2 separate regions of the Homo sapiens genome follow, and region 2 is linked to region 1. Evidence: fine-mapped expression QTL. A gene starts in region 1. The other region holds a variant in brackets. All regions are shown on one strand. Distances are from middle to middle. Region 1 holds the start of LEAP2 (liver enriched antimicrobial peptide 2). Region 2 has its middle 19 kb from the start of AFF4-DT.

Evidence for each region.
Region 2: its variant is fine-mapped to the expression of LEAP2 in whole blood (TOPMed, PIP 0.99).

The regions. Positions count from the first base shown.
Region 1 is chr5:132,871,387-132,876,764 of GRCh38, reverse strand. It overlaps LEAP2 (liver enriched antimicrobial peptide 2), which reads right to left and starts at 3,097. Exons shown (of 3, transcript NM_052971.3): 1 at 3,014-3,097; 2 at 2,676-2,815; 3 at 1,719-2,355. The coding sequence starts at 3,070. The coding sequence ends at 2,319. It overlaps AFF4 (ALF transcription elongation factor 4), which reads left to right. Exons shown (of 21, transcript NM_014423.4): 21 at 1-1,370.
Region 2 is chr5:132,980,519-132,985,896 of GRCh38, reverse strand. No RefSeq gene overlaps it. Among named protein-coding and RNA genes, the nearest start is that of AFF4-DT, 19 kb to the right of the region's middle. The variant T/C (reference allele first, on the strand shown) is at 2,139.

The sequences.
Region 1 (5,378 bases):
AAAGCTCCTATTCACATGAACCCTATGGTTAATTAGAAAGAACTTGCTGTCTCCAGAAAAGGGAATGGAAATAATAACTATGTATCTTCTTTTCATGTAATTTGGTCACAGAATAAGGTATTCAAGTTAAGTCTAATCCAAGTCTTAGAGATCTTTAAGTATCCTAAAATAGCAGCCTAAGTAGTCATCATGTAAAGAAGTTGACTTTCAGGAATGTCAGCATTGACCTCTCCTTGCCACTGTTACTCAGCTAAACATAACTTGCCATTCTTAAAAATAAAAAAGCTCCCACCCAGAAACTCTAGTGATACTCAGTTTTGACCTCTTACTGCTTCCATGTGGGACTTCTTTTCAGCTTTTAACCATTGGAATTTTCTACCTGCTATGTTCCTCTCTGGAAAATATCAATTTGGAAATGCTGCCTTTCAAATCAATGCCATGATCATCCATATTGTTGAGTTTGTTGTTGGTGTTCCAGAAGTGTCCCCATTTTACAACTTTATGCACACACCTGGCAAATCATTAACATGAGCATTCAACAGTACTGGGATGGGTGGGGTGGGGGTAGGGGGCTCACCAACAGAACTGGCCAGTTGACATTGCCTGAAAAGGCACCACCTTTAAGGGCCAGTTGTGGGGTTGGTAAGCACAGTTATGAAAATTTCTATCTAGCCTCCGTTTTGAATGGTTTTAAGAAATTTTGTATATGGAGGATGGAAATGCTTATATATTTATTGAAAATCCTTTTATTTGAAATTAAAATTATTTGGTATATAATTGTTTGATATTTGGGGAGGGTTTTGGAGGGGAGATAATGTCACTGATAAATTAAAAGCCTGTTGATTTTGCAGAAAGGTACTGTTAGTGACTGATAAGGATGCCTTTGTTTTGTACATGAACCAAATCTTTGTTTTACATTTCTTTTATCCAAAATATTTAGGCATCTGACATTTTCAACCAGAATTTCAATTATATACTGTGATTTTTATTTGTTGCAATACATTACAATTTCAGAGGTACTTTGGGGCTCAAAAGCTAGGATTTCTAAGTCAGTATGTGCATTTCACACGATAAAGCTGTTAATGGTGAGCAAAGTATTATATACTAACTAGATTTTTCCACATCTGTATAGTATATTATATGTATTTTGTGGTATTGAGAGTATAGAAAGTTTAGAGTGTCAAACATGCGTTTAATGTGTATTTTTAAACAAATTTATGGCAATTAAAATATTTGGAGACAAGGGTATCACATTTCAATTTGTAAAGATCTTTTTAACTCTACTGTGTCATTAAGATGCTTTGTACAATGCCAAACCATAGTTGGAGAAACTAAGTTTAATAAATATCAAATAGATTTTCTGTATTAAAGTTACTGAACACTGTACTCTTTATATTTCTTCAACTCTGAGCCCTTTTCATGCAATTCCTGTTTTGTGTCTTAAGGTCCGTTACTACTCTTTAAAAGTCTGTTCCCACCAGCTGAGGTCTCATTTTCTGATTACAGAAATTCTGAACTTGCTGGCCATGGGTCCTTGTGCATATGTCAAAATTCACCTTGTCCCAACAGAAATCTTAAATCTCTTTTGGTGCTTTTGGTGGCTTGGGCTTTCATTGCTTTATTAAACTAGATTTTTCTCTCTGTTCTGCCTTATCTTCAGACAGCCATAGACAAACCTGGGTGCTTCATTAGATGGCAAGTGCTTGACCATCTTTTTTTTTTTTTTTTTTTTTTGAGACAGAGTCTCTCTATGTCACCCAGGCTGGGGTGCAGTGGCATGATCTTGGCTCACTGCAACCTCCACCTCCCAGGTTCAAGTGATTCTCCTGCCTCAGCCTCCCAAGCTTGACCACCTTTGACACCTCCCTGAAGAGTATGGAGTGAAGGGATCCAGGGCCACAGCTTAGGAACTTGCTGAAGTTGATTACGTAGCTATTGATTATGTAGCTCTCACTACACTTTCCAGATTGAGAAGTTAACACATTATTGGGCAATGCTGTTTTTTTCTTTAGTATACAAAATGAATCCTTCTTTCCCTCAAAAGCTTGAATTCCAGACTGCTAAAATTTCAATTTGAGACATTTAATAGTATCCATAGAAAAATAAACTCTAAATTGACAAGTTTAGTTATGCTTATCCATATATCAACATTCTAAGAAGAAATGGAGACCAATTTAAAGCGTACATCTGCCTTTAAATATTAAAAATACAAGATTGCTTCACTTGGGTGTCTCCAGCCAAAATGCAGTTAATCAATATTCCATAGAACGGAGCATTGTCGGAGGTGACTGCTGTCCTTTCTTTCCCTGGTATGTACATCATTCCTGGGCCACACTTAAGGAACAGCGTCTTTTTCTAGGGGAAAAGAAAGGGTAGTTTTTTAAGACTGGGTCTAGGAATGACCAGGGCCACCTATGCTGCATTTCCTTCCTCTTTGCTTGATCTGTCCAGTCTCAGGAAAGACTGAAGAATGGAAAGGCACCACTCTTTCATGGTACCCACATAGAGCTGTTCTTGGCTCCTAACTCCTAAGGGATTTTCCATGGAGCTCCCAGTCTCAGTCTAGAACTCCTCCATCCCAGCTTTATTCTTAGGTTCATGTGTCCCCTTGTCACTCCTCTGCCCAGCTTCCCAGGGCTCTCTGGCCCAACCCTGCTCCCAGGTTCAGGGAGTACCTGCATAGCCTTGTGATACACTCAGAATCATCCCGGCAGGAGGCTCCAATAGGCCTGAGGGAAACCCCTCTCCAAAATGGGGTCATTCTCCGTGGCCTTCTCTTTGCCGAACTCACTTCTGGTATTGGGGAGCCATCTATCTGTAAGGGCAAAGACATTCAGATATGAAAGTGTTGACACCCTGCTGCACACCTTGGAAGAGTGATCATTCCATTCCGCAGATGCTGTAGACTCAGAACAGAGGAACCATTCCTCAGGACTGAATCTAGCTTTCAAGTTCCACCACCACTATCATCTCCACACTCCACACACACACATAAGTATCCTTCCCTCCTTACCTGGCCCAACAGCAACAGGAAGATCATGAGGACTGCACAAAGTTTGAGGTGCCACATCTTGACAGGGGGAGGATGTTGGAGCCTGAAAGCCAGGGACAGTTCCTACTTCCTTTTATAGACTGACATCAACTCTTGCATTGTTACTGGGTGAGATGGGGGCAAAGTTTATATTTGTAATCAGAATCAATTTAATAAGTTAATGTCTACCGGAGGAATGTGCTCAAGGGCCACCTTTCAGGCACGTTGTATTTACTGATCCCTCATCTGGACTTTGAGTGATTGTGTTGCTGGCATGGACCCTTTCGCCCATTTTACCAAAAGTCAGCACTGCCCTTCCTTCCCTTTGAAAGCCACGTGAAACCATTGAGGGAGGTCAGGCAACTAGCCACATTTCTATTCCAAAATAGCTCAGTGAGATCACTCCCATAGAATTCCAATAATGAAGTCTTCAGAAATAATGTTGGCCCCTTTCAGCCTTGTCTAGGAAAGAAGCACTGATCTATTGTGTACAGCCAATTGGATAAGGCCCTTATCTCCTTTCTGTGGGAGGATGCTTCAGCAAGGCCTACAGTTCCCCAGATCGTCCACTTGCTTAGATGGACTGTCACCCTAATCTGCACCTCTTTATCTCACTAGTAAAATGAAGACCCAGCTGTGGAAAGTTCAAAGTCTGGCCTCCTGCCCTCTCAGGGGAATGGCTGGATGTGAGACTTATTTGGACCACAGGTGAATTGAATAATTATAGGTTTCTTTTTGTTTTTAAGCACATGTAGATGAGGAGGTAACAAGATCTCCTAAATCAGAGGGAGAGCTTGTGTAGTGACTGTATTAAAAGCCTTGAATTATGGGCTTTCTTCCCAGTAGTTGAGTGGGGCCTTTCCTTCCGGCAGCTTCAGGGCAACAGGCATAGGGATGAGATACCTCCAAAGCCCAAAGCATCCATCAGTTTAAGTAGGAACTGCTGCAGATTTCTAGACCAAGGGAGGACATGTATCTAAACGATGGGTAGTTATGGGTACTCGTGAAATGACATGGGCATTTTAAGTTTGAGGGGAAAGCTGTGAATTCTGAGTAAGGAGACTGATTGGACTTTAGATCTTCCTATGACCTGGGAGGATAATAAGCTTAAGACAAAGACAACAAATTCTTTCTGCCGGGCATCATACTGAAAACTTGGCTAATACCTCTTCCCAAGGGCCGTCTCATCTTCACAGGTTGGGTATTTGGATAAGAACCTGCTTGTTCCTTTACTCCAGGAAAACGTGGAGGAGATGCACAACAGCTGAAGGTAGAAAAGGATGGCCACTGACCCTGCTGCCAGTCAGACAGAGGGAGCTTCTTGCCAAGGGAGAAGCAGATGGTTTGATGGACCTCAGAGCTGGAATTGGGCAGGATGTGACCACAGATCTGACTGTCCTGATTCTAGTCCTCTCAGAATCATGGAGCCAGGCCTTGAGGGGGATGCCACTGCATGCACTTTAGGAACATTGAGAAGAGACCTATATACCAACGAACCAGTTGAGACTAGTTCTCTGCTCCCTCCCTTCACCCCTAAGCTTGGATACTGGATGATCCCAGACAGGTGCCTAAACTGGGAACTTTTGCTGGGAGGGGAAGTGGCTATGTGGGTGACCTAGTGAGCACTGGGTAAGAACACAAATGATTAGATAAGCAAAGGACTGAACAACGTGATGTCCTAGAGCCAGTTGGGTCTGTGGCCTCAGTGTCAGCCTCCCCTTTACCAGTCTAGAGTGATGTGCCAAATGGGATTTGGAAACTGTTCATCCAAAAGATGAGTAATTCTCCTAATCCTCCATTTCTGCCTTCCTGTACTTCTAGCAGGATCAAACTAGCATGGTGTTAATTTGTAAAGCTGATAACACAGTCAAGGAAAGAAAGAGCTTGAAGCCCTTGCCCCTCTGTGTGTAGGCGGAAAGGACCATTCATCCTCATGAGTGTGACAACATTGCAGAGGCCTTTGGTTCAAGCCTCTATGTTGTATGCCACCCTCTCCCCAAAAGAAAAAACCATTAGTCACTGTCTGTGGAAGGAACCACTGTTGGGGAAGGGGAAAGTATTTTAACATGTCTACGTGAATGCTAGTTGTTTTAGTTAAGTATGGAGCAAAAATCAAACTCAAAGCAACATCCAGGCAGCAGTTAGCTGAATTGGCAGTATTTGTCCACAGCCATCCCATACTTGAGAGACTGTGAAGGCCTCTTCTTGAAATTAAAAAAAAAAAAATTTCATGGATTCTACAATCAAGTATTTTGCTCAGTGAATATACACGTAACTGCATGCTCCTTCATCCAATAGAAAGGCCTAAGTAGCCTTTAACAGTTGCAGCCGTAAGAAGGTAGAATGC
Region 2 (5,378 bases), 110 kb before region 1:
TGACAATTCATATATTAGGATATAATAATCCTAAACATGAATACACCTAATAACAGAGCTTGAAAGCATAAAGCAAAACTGATAGAAATAAAATGAGAAATAGACAAATTCACAATTATAGTGAGAGATCTCAATACTCATACTCAATAACTAATAGAACAATAGACAAAAAAAATCAGTGAAGACACAGCAGATTTGAACAACACAATAAACCCACTTGACATAATTGCCACTTACAGAACTACTCCACCCAACAATAGCAGAATATACATTCTTTTTAAAGTGTACCCAGAATATTTAGTAATGTATATTTACCAAGGTAGTCCACATTCTATGCTATAAAACAAGTCTCAATAAATATGAAAATGTTCAAGTCATACAAGATATATTCTTCGACCATGGTGGAATTAAATTAGAAATCAATAACAGAAACATCTCTGGAAAGTCCCCCACTATATGGAACTAAACAAGACACTTCTTTTTTTTTTTTGAGATGGGGTCTTGCTCTGTCACCAGGCTGGAGTGCAATGGCGCAATCTTGGTTCACTGCAACCTCTGCCTCCTGGGTTCAAGCGATTCCCCTGCCTCAGCCTCCTGAGTAGCTAGGACTACAGGTGTTCGCCACCACACCTGGCTAATTTTTTTGTATTTTAGTGGAGATGAGGTTTCACCATGTTGGACAGGACGGTCTCGATTTCCTGACCTCGTGATCCACCTGCCTTGGCCTCCCAAAGTGCTGGGATTACAGGCGTGAGCCACTGTGCCCGGCCACAAGATGCTTCCATATAATCCATGCTCAAAGAGGAAATCAAAAGGAAAATTAGAAGACATTTTAACTGAATGAAGATGAAAACAAAACATATTAATATTTGCGAAATGCTGCTGAAGTAATACGTAGGGGAAATTTATATTAGGGGAAAAGTCTCAAATCAATGACTTCAGCTTTCATCTTAAGAAACTAGGAAAACAAGAGCAAAAAATCCCAAAATAAGCAGAAGAAAGAAATATAAGAAAGGAAAGAAAAATAAAGATCAGAGCAGAAATCAATGTAATAGAAAATGAAAAAACAATACATTCAGTGAATCCAAAAGATGGTTCTATGAGAAGATTAATAAAATTGATAAACCTCTAACCAGACTGCCCAGGATAAAAAAGAGGACACAAATTACCAACATTAGGAATGAGAGAGGTGCTATTACAACACATTCCCAGATATTAAAAGAACACTAAGAGTACAGTATGAACAACTTTACTCATTTAATAAATTAGATAGGCAGAGTGCTGTGGCTTACACCTATAATCCCAGCACTTTGGAAGGCTGAGGCTGGAGAATTGCTTTAGGCCAGCAATTGGAGACTAGCCTGCACAACATAGTGAGACCCTTGTCTCTAGAAAAAAATTTTTTTAAATTAGCCGGGCTTAGTGGTGCATAGTCCCAGCTACTTGGGAGGCTGAGGTGGGAGGATTGCTTGAGCCAAGGAGTCTGAGGCTGAAGTGAACTGTGTTTGCACCACTGCACTCCAGCCTGAACAACAGAGCAAGACCCTGTCTCTTTAAAAATTAAATAAATAAATTAGATGAATGGACAAATTCCTTGAAAGACAAACTACCAAGGTTCACTTAAGAATAAACAGATGGGGGTGGGCGCCATGGCTCACGCATATAATCCCGGCACTTTGGGAGGCTGAGATTTTGCCCAGTCTGGGCAAAAAGGTGAAAGAAACCCCATCTCTACAAAAAATGCAAAAATTAGCCAGATATGGTGGCGCATGCCTGTAGTCCCAGCTACTCTGGAGGCTGAGGTGGGAGGATTCCTTGAGCCCAGGAGGTTAAAGTGGCAGTGAGTGGAGATTGTGCCACTGCACACCAGCCTGGGTGACAGCGTGAGACTCTGTCTTAAAAAACGTCCCTCTCCCGCTCCCTCTTCCCCTCCCCCTCTCCCCCCCCCCCCCACGGTCTCCCTCTCCCTCTCTTTCCACGGTCTCCCTCTGATGCTGAGCCGAAGCTGGACTGTACTGCTGCCATCTCGGCTCACTGCACCCTCCCTGCCTGATTCTCCTGCCTCAGCCTGCCCAGTGCCTGCGATTGCAGGCGCGCGCCGCCACGCCTGACTGGTTTTCGTATTTTTTTGGTGGAGA[T/C]GGAGTTTTGCTGTGTTGGCCGGGCTGGTCTCCAGCTCCTAACCGCGAGTGGTCCGCCAGCCTCGGCCTCCCGAGGTGCCGGGATTGCAGACAGAGTCTCGTTCACTCAGTGCTCAATGGTGCCCAGGCTGGAGTGCAGTGGCGTGATCTCGGCTCGCTACAACCTCCACCTCCCAGCCGCCTGCCTTGGCCTCCCAAAGTGCCGAGATTGCAGCCTCTGCCCGGCTGCCACCCCATCTGGGAAGTGAGGAGCGTCTCTGCCTGGCCGCCCATCGTCTGGGATGTGAGGAGCCCCTCTGCCTGGCTGCCCAGTCTGGAAAGTGAGGAGCGTCTCTGCCCGCCCGCCATCCCATCTAGGAAGTGAGGAGCGCCTCTTCCCGGCCGCCATCCCATCTAGGAAGTGAGGAGCGTCTCTGCCCGGCCGCCCATTGTCTGAGATGTGGAGAGCGCCTCTGCCCCGCCGCCCCGTCTGGGATGTGAGGAGCGCCTCTGCCTGGCTGCGACCCCGTCTGGGAGGTGAGGAGCGCCTCTGCCCGGCCGCCCCGTCTGAGAAGTGAGGAGCCCCTCCGCCCGGCAGCCGCCCTGTCTGAGAAGTGAGGAGCCCCTCCGCCGGGCAGCCACCCCGTCTGGGAAGTGAGGAGCGTCTCAGCCCGGCAGCCACCCCGTCCAGGAGGGAGGTGGGGGTCAGCCCCCGCCAGGCCAGCCGCCCCTTCCGAGAGGGAGGTGGGGGGGTCAGCCCCCCCGCCCGGCCAGCCGCCCTGTCTGGGAGGTGAGGGGCGCCTCTGCCCGGCCGCCCCTACTGGGAAGTGAGGAGCCCCTCTGCCCGGCCACCACCCCGTCTGGGAAGTGTACCCAACAGCTCATTGAGAACGGGCCATGATGACAATGGCGGTTTTGTGGAATAGAAAAGGGGGAAAGGTGGGGAAAAGATTGAGAAATCGGATGGTTGCTGTGTCTGTGTAGCAAGAAGTAGACATGGGAGACTTTTCATTTTGTTCTGCACTAAGAAAAATTCTTCTGCCTTGGGATCCTGTTGATCTATGACCTTACCCCCAACCCTGTGCTCTCTGAAACATGTGCTGTGTCCACTCAGGGTTAAATGGATTAAGGGCGGTCCAAGATGTGCTTTGTTAAACAGATGCTTGAAGGCAGCATGCTCCTTAAGAGTCATCACCACTCCCTAATCTCAAGTACCCAGGGACACAAACACTGCGGAAGGCCGCAGGGTCCTCTGCCTAGGAAAACCAGAGACCTTTGTTCACTTGTTTATCTGCTGACCTTCCCTCCACTATTGTCCCATGACCCTGCCAAATCCCCCTCTCCGAGAAACACCCAAGAATGATCAATAAAAAAAAAAAAAAAAAAAAACAAGGCCAGGTACTGTGGCTCACATCTGTAATCCTAGCACTTTGGGAGGCTGAGGCGGGCAGGTCACAAGGTTAAGAGATCGAGACCATCCTGGCCAACTTGGTGAAAACCTGTCTCTACTAAAAATACAAAAATTAGCTGGGCGTGGTGGCGTGCGCCTGCAGTCCCAGGTACTCGGGAGGCTGAGGCAGGAGAATCCCTTGAACCCAGGAAGCACGGGTTGCAGTGAGCTGAGATCGCACCACTGCACTCCAGCCTGGGCAACCGAGTGGGACTCCGTCTCAAAAAACAAAAACAAACAAAAAACACAAACAACAAACAAACAGGCCAGGTGTGGTGGCTCACTTCTATAATCCCAGCACTTTGGGAGGCTGAGGTGGGTGAGTCACTTGAGGTCAGGAGTTTGAGACCATCCTGGCCAACATGGTGAAAACCTGTCTCTACTAAAAATAAAAAAATCAGCTGGGCGTGGTGGCGCACACCTGTAATCCCAAGTACTCTGGAGGCTGAAGCAGGAGAATCGCTTGAACCTGGGAGGCGGAAGTGGCAGTGAGCCGAGATTGTGCCACTGCTCTCCAGCCTGGGTGACAAAGCAAGACTCCGTCTCAAAATAAAAAGAAAAAACAAGCAAATAAATTTATACACCTAAAGGGAATAAACTTCAAACAGTGAGCAATGTATATGTAGGGTATACATATAGATACGAACTGGAAATAAAATTGAGTCAATATTTTAAAAATCAGACTTTAGTGTTCATTAACATTTTTTTCCTGTGTAAATTGCTTAAAATTATGGTTTGGATTGTGATAACCAGCCTTTAAGATGGTTCCCAATGATAATAATTTCCAGTTACTTATGACCTTATATAGTCCCTTTCCATATGGAATCAGAGATAACCTATGTGACCAATAGAATAGTACAAGAATAACAGTGTGTGACTTCAGAGGTGAGGTCATAAGAGGCATTACAGCTTCTGCTTTGTCTCTTGAAACACTCACAAGGACTCGTTCTGTTGCCCAGGCTGGAGTGCAGTGGCATGATCATGGCTCACTGCAGCTGCGACCTCCCTAAGCCCAGGAGATCTTCTACCCTAGCCTCCTATGTAGCTGGGATCACAGGCACGCACCACCATGCCCGACTAATTTTTTTTTTTTTTTTGAGACAGAGTTTCGCTCTTGTTGCCCAGGCTGGAGTACAATGGCGTGATCTTGGCTCATTGCAACCTCTGCCTCCTGGGTTCAAACAGTTCTCCTTCCCCAGCCTCCCAAGTAGCTGGGATTACAGGCATGTGCCACCATGCATGGCTAATTTTGTATTTTTAGTAGAGATGGGGTTTAACCATGTTGGTCAGGCTGGTCTTGAACTCGTTACCTCAGGTGATCCACCCACCTCGGCCTCCCAAAGTGCTGGGATTACAGGTGTGAGCCACCGTGCCTGGCCTAATTTTTTTTTTTTTTTTTGTAGCAATAGTGTCTTGCTGTATTGCTCACGCTGCTCGGGAACTCTTGGGCTCAAGGGATCCTTCTGCATTGGCCTCCCAAAGCGCTGCGATGACAGGTGTACGCCAACGTGCCTGGCCCACCAGAATAAATCTTAGAATATTCTGATCACCATGAAAAGAAACCCTAGCTGGGCGCAGTGCCTCATGCCTGTAATCCCAGCACTTTGGGAGTCCAAGGCGGGTGGATCACCTGACCAACATGGAGAAACCCTGTCTCTACTAAAAAATACAAAAATTAGCTGGGCGTGATGGTGGATGTCTGTAATCCCAGCTACTCGGGAGGCTGAGGCAGGAGAATCGTTTGAACCCTGGAGGCGGAGGTTGCAGCGAGTTGAGATTGCACCATTGCACTCTAGCCTGGGCGACAAGAG